Linked DNA regions of Homo sapiens: region 1 is linked to region 2. The links come from fine-mapping of genetic effects on gene expression. A gene starts in region 2. The other region holds a variant in brackets. All regions are shown on one strand. Distances are from middle to middle. Region 1 overlaps ACAP3 (ArfGAP with coiled-coil, ankyrin repeat and PH domains 3). Region 2 holds the start of TAS1R3 (taste 1 receptor member 3).

Evidence for each region. PIP is the estimated chance that this variant, and not a neighbour inherited with it, causes the effect. A credible set is the group of variants that fine-mapping cannot tell apart.
Region 1: its variant is the best candidate, but not a certain one, in a credible set for the expression of TAS1R3 in memory regulatory T cells (Schmiedel 2018, PIP 0.55).

The regions. Positions count from the first base shown.
Region 1 is chr1:1,299,143-1,303,391 of GRCh38, forward strand. ACAP3 (ArfGAP with coiled-coil, ankyrin repeat and PH domains 3) reads right to left here. Exons shown (of 24, transcript NM_030649.3): 3 at 4,020-4,139; 4 at 3,780-3,833; 5 at 2,846-2,904; 6 at 1,367-1,550; 7 at 1,016-1,060; 8 at 831-926; 9 at 689-763; 10 at 203-214. Among named protein-coding and RNA genes, the nearest start is that of SNORD167, 3.5 kb to the right of the region's middle. RefSeq lists enhancers at 2,629-3,230, 3,231-3,830, 3,831-4,249. The variant C/CT (reference allele first, on the strand shown) is at 2,116.
Region 2 is chr1:1,329,393-1,333,641 of GRCh38, forward strand. It overlaps TAS1R3 (taste 1 receptor member 3), which reads left to right and starts at 1,888. Exons shown (of 6, transcript NM_152228.3): 1 at 1,888-2,144; 2 at 2,246-2,546; 3 at 2,632-3,414; 4 at 3,529-3,732; 5 at 3,867-3,987; 6 at 4,114-4,249. The coding sequence starts at 1,954.

The sequences.
Region 1 (4,249 bases), 30 kb before region 2:
GGAAGGGACAGCTGCCGCCAACCCCACGGGGAATGTGGAGGTCTGGCCGGAGCCAGCCCCTCACAGCCGCATCAGCAGCAGGAGCCGAGACTGGTGGGAGGTGTCCTTGGTGCTGAAGTGCCCTTGGGGTAGAGGAGGGAAAGGCACCGCCCCATCTGGTCTCCCCCGACCCACAGCCCGCCCAGGGCCCGTGCTCACTTACCTGCAGCAGCGTCTGGAGGGCCGGAGCAGGAGGGGGTAGGGGGAGAAAGCCAGTGAGTGACGGCTGCCAACTCCTGGTGACTGGTGGACCCGTCCCCAACTCCTGGTGACTGGTGGACCCGTCCCCAACTCCTGGGGGGCTCTCCCCTATCCCAAAATAGCCACTCCTGCCTGCAGCCAACCTCTGCCCGGGATGGTGGCCGGGGCTGCTGTCCCACAGGCAAGCAAAGGCCCCGCAAGGAGCCAGTGACTGAGGCCACAGAGGTGACCACCGCCTCAAAAGGAGATCCCAGCAGCGGCCCCACCCACACGTGCCCCTCCACTGCACACATCAAAGGGAGCAGCCTTGGTCCCCTAGAGAGGGTGTGGGCAGGGCAGGTGGGAGACAGGCAGGAGGAAGGGGCGGGGAGGGTGTGCCGGGCATGGGGTGAGGACGCAGGGGCCTCCCAGGCGCCTGGTGTGCAGGGAGCCGGCTGCGCGGCCTCACCCGCTGCTGGATGGCGGCGTGCTTTCGCTCCATCTCACGCTTTTCCACCGCAGAGTCGATCACCAGCTGGTCCAGCTGTTGGGGGTGGCATTAGGGAAGGTCACGGAGGCCTGGCCCAGCCCCACCCCTCCCAAAGGCTCACCTCGGCTGCCAGCTTCTTCATGTAGGGGTCCAGCTGGTGCAGGAGGCTGTAGCCCTGCTGGAAGAAGCTGGACTGGGCGTGCATGAAGGACAGCATCTGCGGGGGCAGCACAGGTGAGGCCCAAGCACACCCGGTCCAGCCCCCAACATGCAGCCTGTGCTCAGGGGCAGCCCCCACGCACTCACAGAGTCCAGGATCTCAAACTTCTTCTTGGCCTGCAGAACATTGATCTGCCAGAGGGGGAGCCCACAGGTGAGCCCCGGAGGCTGAGGCAGCCCCAAGCCCTGCACCTGCCATAGAGTCCACCTGAGCTGCTTGTGGTTCCCTGAGACCCCCAGGTCGTCTTCAGCTCCCAGCTCTGGGCCAGCCTCATCCTCCCATGGTCCTGGACTGCTTCCCCATGTCTGGAGTTCCCACCCATGGGCAAAGCAAGAATCGTCACTCCTGCTCAAAATCCCTCCAGTTCTGTACAAGGCCGTTGAGGCCTCCATTCGCTACAGCTGGTCCCCGCCCCCCAGCCCATTTCTGGGGCTGACCTGGAGCACATAGTCCAGTGCCAGGTGGCGGAAGCACTTCCTGGTGAGGGTGAGGGCCCCGGTGGCTTCCTCCACCTCGTGGGGCCGGTGCCTCGGGGCCTGGGCGTTCCTCACCAGGGACAGCTCCAGGTCCTCCCGCACCTTGTCAAACTGCTTCTTTGTCTCCTTGAACTTCCGCACATCCCTGGAGGCCAAGTGCCAGGTGGGGTGAGAGATCAGGGAGGGCACCTGCTGGATCCTGGAGTCTCCCACATCGTTGTTTGTGTGTTTTTTGTTTTTTGAGACGGAGTTTCGCTCTTGTCACCCAGGCTGGAGTGCAATGGTGCTGTCTCGGCTCACCGCAATCTCTGCCTCGCGAGTTCAAGTGATTCTCCTGCCTCAGCTTCCCTAGCAGCTGGGATTACAGGCATGCGCCACCAGGCCTAATTTTGTATTTTTAGTAGAGATGGGGTTTCTCCAGGTTGGTCAGGCTGGTCTTGAACTCCCGACCTCAGGTGATTCACCCACCTCGGTCTCCCAACGTGCTGGGATTACAGGCGTGAGCCACTGCGCCTGGCCTGGTTTTGTTTGTTTGAGACAGGGTCTGTCTCTGTTGCCCAGGCTGGAGGCTGGAGTGCAGTGGCACAGTTATGGCTCACTGCAGCCTCTACCTCCCAGGCTCAAGCAATTCTCCCACCTCGGCCTCCCAAGTAGCTGAGGCTACAGGTGCGTGCCACCATATAAGGCTTATTTTTGGTTCTTGGGGGTGT[C/CT]TTTTTTTTTTTTTTTTTTTTTGATGGAGTCTCTCTCTGTCACCCAGGCTGGAGTGCAGTAGCACAATCATGGCTCACTGCTGCCTCCGCCTCCTGGGCTCAACTGATCCTCCCACCTCATCCTCCTGAATAGCTGGGACCATAGGCACGTGCCACCATGCCCATCTAATTTTTTTTTTTTTTTTTTTTTGTAGAGATGGAGGTCTCATTACGTTGCCCAGGCTGGTCTCAAACTCCTGGCATTCTCTGGCCTTGGCCTCCCAAACGCTGGGATTACAGGTGTGAGCCACCATGCCCAGCCCCACCCCCCTCCACTCCAGGCCCTTTCTTTGCTCCTGGGCATAGCCTCCTTCCTCACCAGCCTATCCCAGGCCTGCCCGCACCCCTGCTGACCCCGATCATCTGCTCCAGGCCTCCCCAGCCCCTCCCCACCTCACTCTCAAGATCTGTCCAGCCCAGACCCCAGCCATGCCCCAGACTCCAGACCCCCAAACCCAACGTGGACTGGACCTCTCTGCTGTGGGGGCTGGACACCCCACCCACACATGCAGGGTGTGGAACCCCCCGCACTCCACCCGGCTGTCTGCCTCTGAGCCTTCTGCCTTGTGGAGCCGCTGCACAGCCTGGAGGCCTGGGCCCAAGGTGCCTCTGCTCTGCCCCAGACCCCCTTCCCCTCCAAGGGAGGGAGCGTGGCCTCAGTGTTCTTCCCCCAGCCCTGGGGGCCACTCACTCTTTGACAAAGCTCTGGAGCTGCTGCCGCACGGACCTCTGGGCCTGGTCAAACAGGATCTGGGGGCAGAGGCGGGCAGAGATCCTTGGGGTCTGTCCCGAAAGAGCCCCAGATGGAAGGCCCCATCCTCACCAGCAGAGGGCACTGCCCCCAGGCCCAGATGCAGGGGCGGGTCCCACCCTGCAGGGCTGGCCTCAAGGGGGTCAGGGGAGCAGCCCCCAGGCCTGAGTTGGCACTCAGAGGCGATGGCTGTCACCCCTGCCCCTCTGTCCCACCTGGCCCTTGATGAGTGCAGAGGCCAAGGCTGCCTCATCACAGCCTGAGCCGGAGCCCCACTGCCTCCTGGCCCTGGGCGGCCACCCTGGGGTGCCCATCCCTGCAGCAGGGAGCACTCAGCCAGAGCCGGGAGCACCCAGGGGCTGGGCCTGGGGAGCTGGAGCCTGGGCTCTGAATCGGAACCCGAAGTAGAGAAGGACCGGGCACAACCAGGAGCAAAGGGACGGCTGAGCCATCCTGCCTTGTCTACTTCGGGACCTCCTCTGTTCAGTCTGCGGCTCAGGTTCCCAGGCTGCAGCCCCACATCTCACGGGTGCCTGTCCTGTGTGTCCATCCACGTCAGTGCCAGGGCCCCCGGGGGCCACCCAGACCCAAATGGCAGCCAGGCCAGCCTGGGACGAGAGCCCTGCCCAGTTGGGGGAACCCTGGATAAACCACCCCTCCCCCAGGGTCTAGTGTGGCCCTTGCCTGGGACACGGCAGAGCCCCCAGGGCTGTCCCCCAACCCCACACTGACTTGAAAATGTGGGATTCCCCCCCCCCCCGACTAGAGGAGCAGAAACGTGCCCCCCCCAACCCGACGCCGGCCTTCAGGTGAGCCAGCGCAGCTCGGTTCCAGGCCAGGCACAGCCCACAGGTGGCAGGGAGGCCGCGCTCACCATGTGGTAGTTCACCACCTCCTGTAGGCTGTCAGCGAACCTCTGCAGACATTCCTGGAGGAGCAGATGGGAACCCGTGCTGAGATGGCAAATCCGGGCCCAGGTCACCCAGCCACGCCCTCTGAGCCCCTGGGCGGTGCAGACACCGGCCTGCTTCTGGCCTGGACGCCCTCAAGGGGCTGCCTCCCTCGGCCTCTCCCCCAACCCCACCTTGAGGTCAGAGGTCAGTCGGCCCCTCACCGAGATGACGGTGTCGCCCTGGCACTGCTGGGACAGGTCGCGGACGCCGCTCACGAAAAGCCTGCTGGTGCTGACGTAGGCCTTACCGGCTTCCACCATGCCACTGCACAGCTTCACCAGCTGTGGGCCAGCGGGGCGTGGTGAGCACAGTGGGCACTGGCGCCTGCACTCGCCACCACACACGGCCACTCAGAGGCAGGAAGAGCTCCCAGGGTAGGTTCCACTCAGGG
Region 2 (4,249 bases):
CCGACTGCAGTATGGGCCGGGAGAACTGCCTGGGTCTGCGTGGGCCCCAGGGCAGGGCTCCCTCCGGGTGTTGCCTTCTGTACAAGTGCCATGCTTGTGCCGTTTGCGTGTCCCAAGTGCGAGTGTGCTATTTGCGTGTGCCGCACGTGTGCCGTTTGCATGTGCTGTTTGCATGTACCATGTGCATGTGTGCCATCTGTGCAATGTGCAGGTGCCAGTTGCATGTGCCATGCGTGTTGGCCGTGAGCGTGTGCTGTTTTCGTGTATGTGCCATGCACGTATGTGCTGCGTGTTGGCCGTGCACGTGTGCCACGTGCATGTGTGCCATTTGTGTATGCCGTGTGTGCTGTGAGCGTATGCTGTGCGCATGTGCGTGCCATGTGCTTTGCGTGTACCATGTGTGTGCTGTTTGCATGTGCCATTTGTGTCATGCACGTGCCATTTGCGTGCGATGCGCGTGTGCCACACGTCGTTTGCTTGCGTGCCATGCATGTGTGGCATTTGTGTATGTGCCGTTTCCGTGTGTATTGTGTGTGCCGTGTGTGTGCCATTTGCATGTGCCGTTTTGTGTGTGCCATGCGCGTGTGCCATGCACTTGCCGTGCGTGTGCCATTTGTGTGTACCATGCGCATGTGCCATTCGTGTGCACCGTACACGTGTGCCATTTGCATGTATGCTGTGCACGTGTGGCATGCATGTGTGCCGTTTGCATGCCATGCATGTGTTCCTTGCGTGTGCCGTGCGTGTCCCATGCACGTGTGCCGTGCATGTGCCATTCGCGTGTACCATGCGCATGTGCCGTTTGTGTGTGTGCCGCATTCCTGTGCTCGTGTGCCAGGTTCGCATGTGCGCCATATTCACGTGTGCTCAGCATGTGCCATATGCATGTGCGGTGGTAGTGTGTGTCCCTCACAGGTCCTCCTCACAACACCATGGGGAAGAAGCACCAGCCAGGGCACACCTCCTGGTATCTGCTAGGTCTGCCAGGCCCTAGCTGAAGCTGAGTGCCCCCCAGTTCCCCTGGGAGGGCCTGCGCCTGGAGTCTGCTGTGTCCCCGAGGGCACCCCCAAAGCAACACAGAGGCAGAGGAGTCCCGGCCCTGCACACCTGGTGCTGCTCCAGCTGCCGCTCATTTGCCTGTGGCCCTTCCTCCCTTGTTTGCGTGCCCCCCTGGCAAACAAACTCTACCCCCAGCAGGAGCCACCTGTGTGCCTGCCACGCAGGAGTGGCCCAGACGGGGGTCAGCAGTGTGAGTACAGCTGGCCATGCGGTTCCTACAGCTTCCAGGCGTCAGACTCTGGCAGAAGGGCTGAGACCCTCAAGGAACTCTGCTCCCAAGCAGACTGGGAGGGCAGCACCACCACCCCAGGGCCCTCCCCAGCTGCAGGGTGGAGGCCTGGCTGGCCGGCTGCCCACTGGCCTGACTGGTCTGCAGGCCTAGGGGGCCCATCCCTGCTGCCCCCGGCTCCGGCCAGCACAGCCTTGAGTGGGAGCCAGAAGCTCCCGGGGCTGGGTAGGAGGCATTTCTGTGCTTATGAAAAGCCCCAGGGCTGGGTGTCTCTGCATCCCTCCCACGCAGCTGAGACCTCAGAGCCCTGGAGGCCCCTTTGCCCCCTCTCCTCTCCACAGCCTGCTGGGCAACTCCAGGAATCGGGGGGTGGCAAGGGGCTCAGCCACAGGCAGGGAACAAGGCCACGGCCAGCAACTGAGCAGAGCCTGCCTGCCGGTCAACGCTGGCCATAGAGCCTGGCAGTGGCCTCAGGCAGAGTCTGACGCGCACAAACTTTCAGGCCCAGGAAGCGAGGACACCACTGGGGCCCCAGGGTGTGGCAAGTGAGGATGGCAAGGGTTTTGCTAAACAAATCCTCTGCCCGCTCCCCGCCCCGGGCTCACTCCATGTGAGGCCCCAGTCGGGGCAGCCACCTGCCGTGCCTGTTGGAAGTTGCCTCTGCCATGCTGGGCCCTGCTGTCCTGGGCCTCAGCCTCTGGGCTCTCCTGCACCCTGGGACGGGGGCCCCATTGTGCCTGTCACAGCAACTTAGGATGAAGGGGGACTACGTGCTGGGGGGGCTGTTCCCCCTGGGCGAGGCCGAGGAGGCTGGCCTCCGCAGCCGGACACGGCCCAGCAGCCCTGTGTGCACCAGGTACAGAGGTGGGACGGCCTGGGTCGGGGTCAGGGTGACCAGGTCTGGGGTGCTCCTGAGCTGGGGCCGAGGTGGCCATCTGCGGTTCTGTGTGGCCCCAGGTTCTCCTCAAACGGCCTGCTCTGGGCACTGGCCATGAAAATGGCCGTGGAGGAGATCAACAACAAGTCGGATCTGCTGCCCGGGCTGCGCCTGGGCTACGACCTCTTTGATACGTGCTCGGAGCCTGTGGTGGCCATGAAGCCCAGCCTCATGTTCCTGGCCAAGGCAGGCAGCCGCGACATCGCCGCCTACTGCAACTACACGCAGTACCAGCCCCGTGTGCTGGCTGTCATCGGGCCCCACTCGTCAGAGCTCGCCATGGTCACCGGCAAGTTCTTCAGCTTCTTCCTCATGCCCCAGGTGGGCGCCCCCCACCATCACCCACCCCCACCCAGCCCTGCCCGTGGGAGCCCCTGTGTCAGGAGATGCCTCTTGGCCCTTGCAGGTCAGCTACGGTGCTAGCATGGAGCTGCTGAGCGCCCGGGAGACCTTCCCCTCCTTCTTCCGCACCGTGCCCAGCGACCGTGTGCAGCTGACGGCCGCCGCGGAGCTGCTGCAGGAGTTCGGCTGGAACTGGGTGGCCGCCCTGGGCAGCGACGACGAGTACGGCCGGCAGGGCCTGAGCATCTTCTCGGCCCTGGCCGCGGCACGCGGCATCTGCATCGCGCACGAGGGCCTGGTGCCGCTGCCCCGTGCCGATGACTCGCGGCTGGGGAAGGTGCAGGACGTCCTGCACCAGGTGAACCAGAGCAGCGTGCAGGTGGTGCTGCTGTTCGCCTCCGTGCACGCCGCCCACGCCCTCTTCAACTACAGCATCAGCAGCAGGCTCTCGCCCAAGGTGTGGGTGGCCAGCGAGGCCTGGCTGACCTCTGACCTGGTCATGGGGCTGCCCGGCATGGCCCAGATGGGCACGGTGCTTGGCTTCCTCCAGAGGGGTGCCCAGCTGCACGAGTTCCCCCAGTACGTGAAGACGCACCTGGCCCTGGCCACCGACCCGGCCTTCTGCTCTGCCCTGGGCGAGAGGGAGCAGGGTCTGGAGGAGGACGTGGTGGGCCAGCGCTGCCCGCAGTGTGACTGCATCACGCTGCAGAACGTGAGCGCAGGGCTAAATCACCACCAGACGTTCTCTGTCTACGCAGCTGTGTATAGCGTGGCCCAGGCCCTGCACAACACTCTTCAGTGCAACGCCTCAGGCTGCCCCGCGCAGGACCCCGTGAAGCCCTGGCAGGTGAGCCCGGGAGATGGGGGTGTGCTGTCCTCTGCATGTGCCCAGGCCACCAGGCACGGCCACCACGCCTGAGCTGGAGGTGGCTGGCGGCTCAGCCCCGTCCCCCGCCCGCAGCTCCTGGAGAACATGTACAACCTGACCTTCCACGTGGGCGGGCTGCCGCTGCGGTTCGACAGCAGCGGAAACGTGGACATGGAGTACGACCTGAAGCTGTGGGTGTGGCAGGGCTCAGTGCCCAGGCTCCACGACGTGGGCAGGTTCAACGGCAGCCTCAGGACAGAGCGCCTGAAGATCCGCTGGCACACGTCTGACAACCAGGTGAGGTGAGGGTGGGTGTGCCAGGCGTGCCCGTGGTAGCCCCCGCGGCAGGGCGCAGCCTGGGGGTGGGGGCCGTTCCAGTCTCCCGTGGGCATGCCCAGCCGAGCAGAGCCAGACCCCAGGCCTGTGCGCAGAAGCCCGTGTCCCGGTGCTCGCGGCAGTGCCAGGAGGGCCAGGTGCGCCGGGTCAAGGGGTTCCACTCCTGCTGCTACGACTGTGTGGACTGCGAGGCGGGCAGCTACCGGCAAAACCCAGGTGAGCCGCCTTCCCGGCAGGCGGGGGTGGGAACGCAGCAGGGGAGGGTCCTGCCAAGTCCTGACTCTGAGACCAGAGCCCACAGGGTACAAGACGAACACCCAGCGCCCTTCTCCTCTCTCACAGACGACATCGCCTGCACCTTTTGTGGCCAGGATGAGTGGTCCCCGGAGCGAAGCACACGCTGCTTCCGCCGCAGGTCTCGGTTCCTGGCATGGGGCGAGCCGGCTGTGCTGCTGCTGCTCCTGCTGCTGAGCCTGGC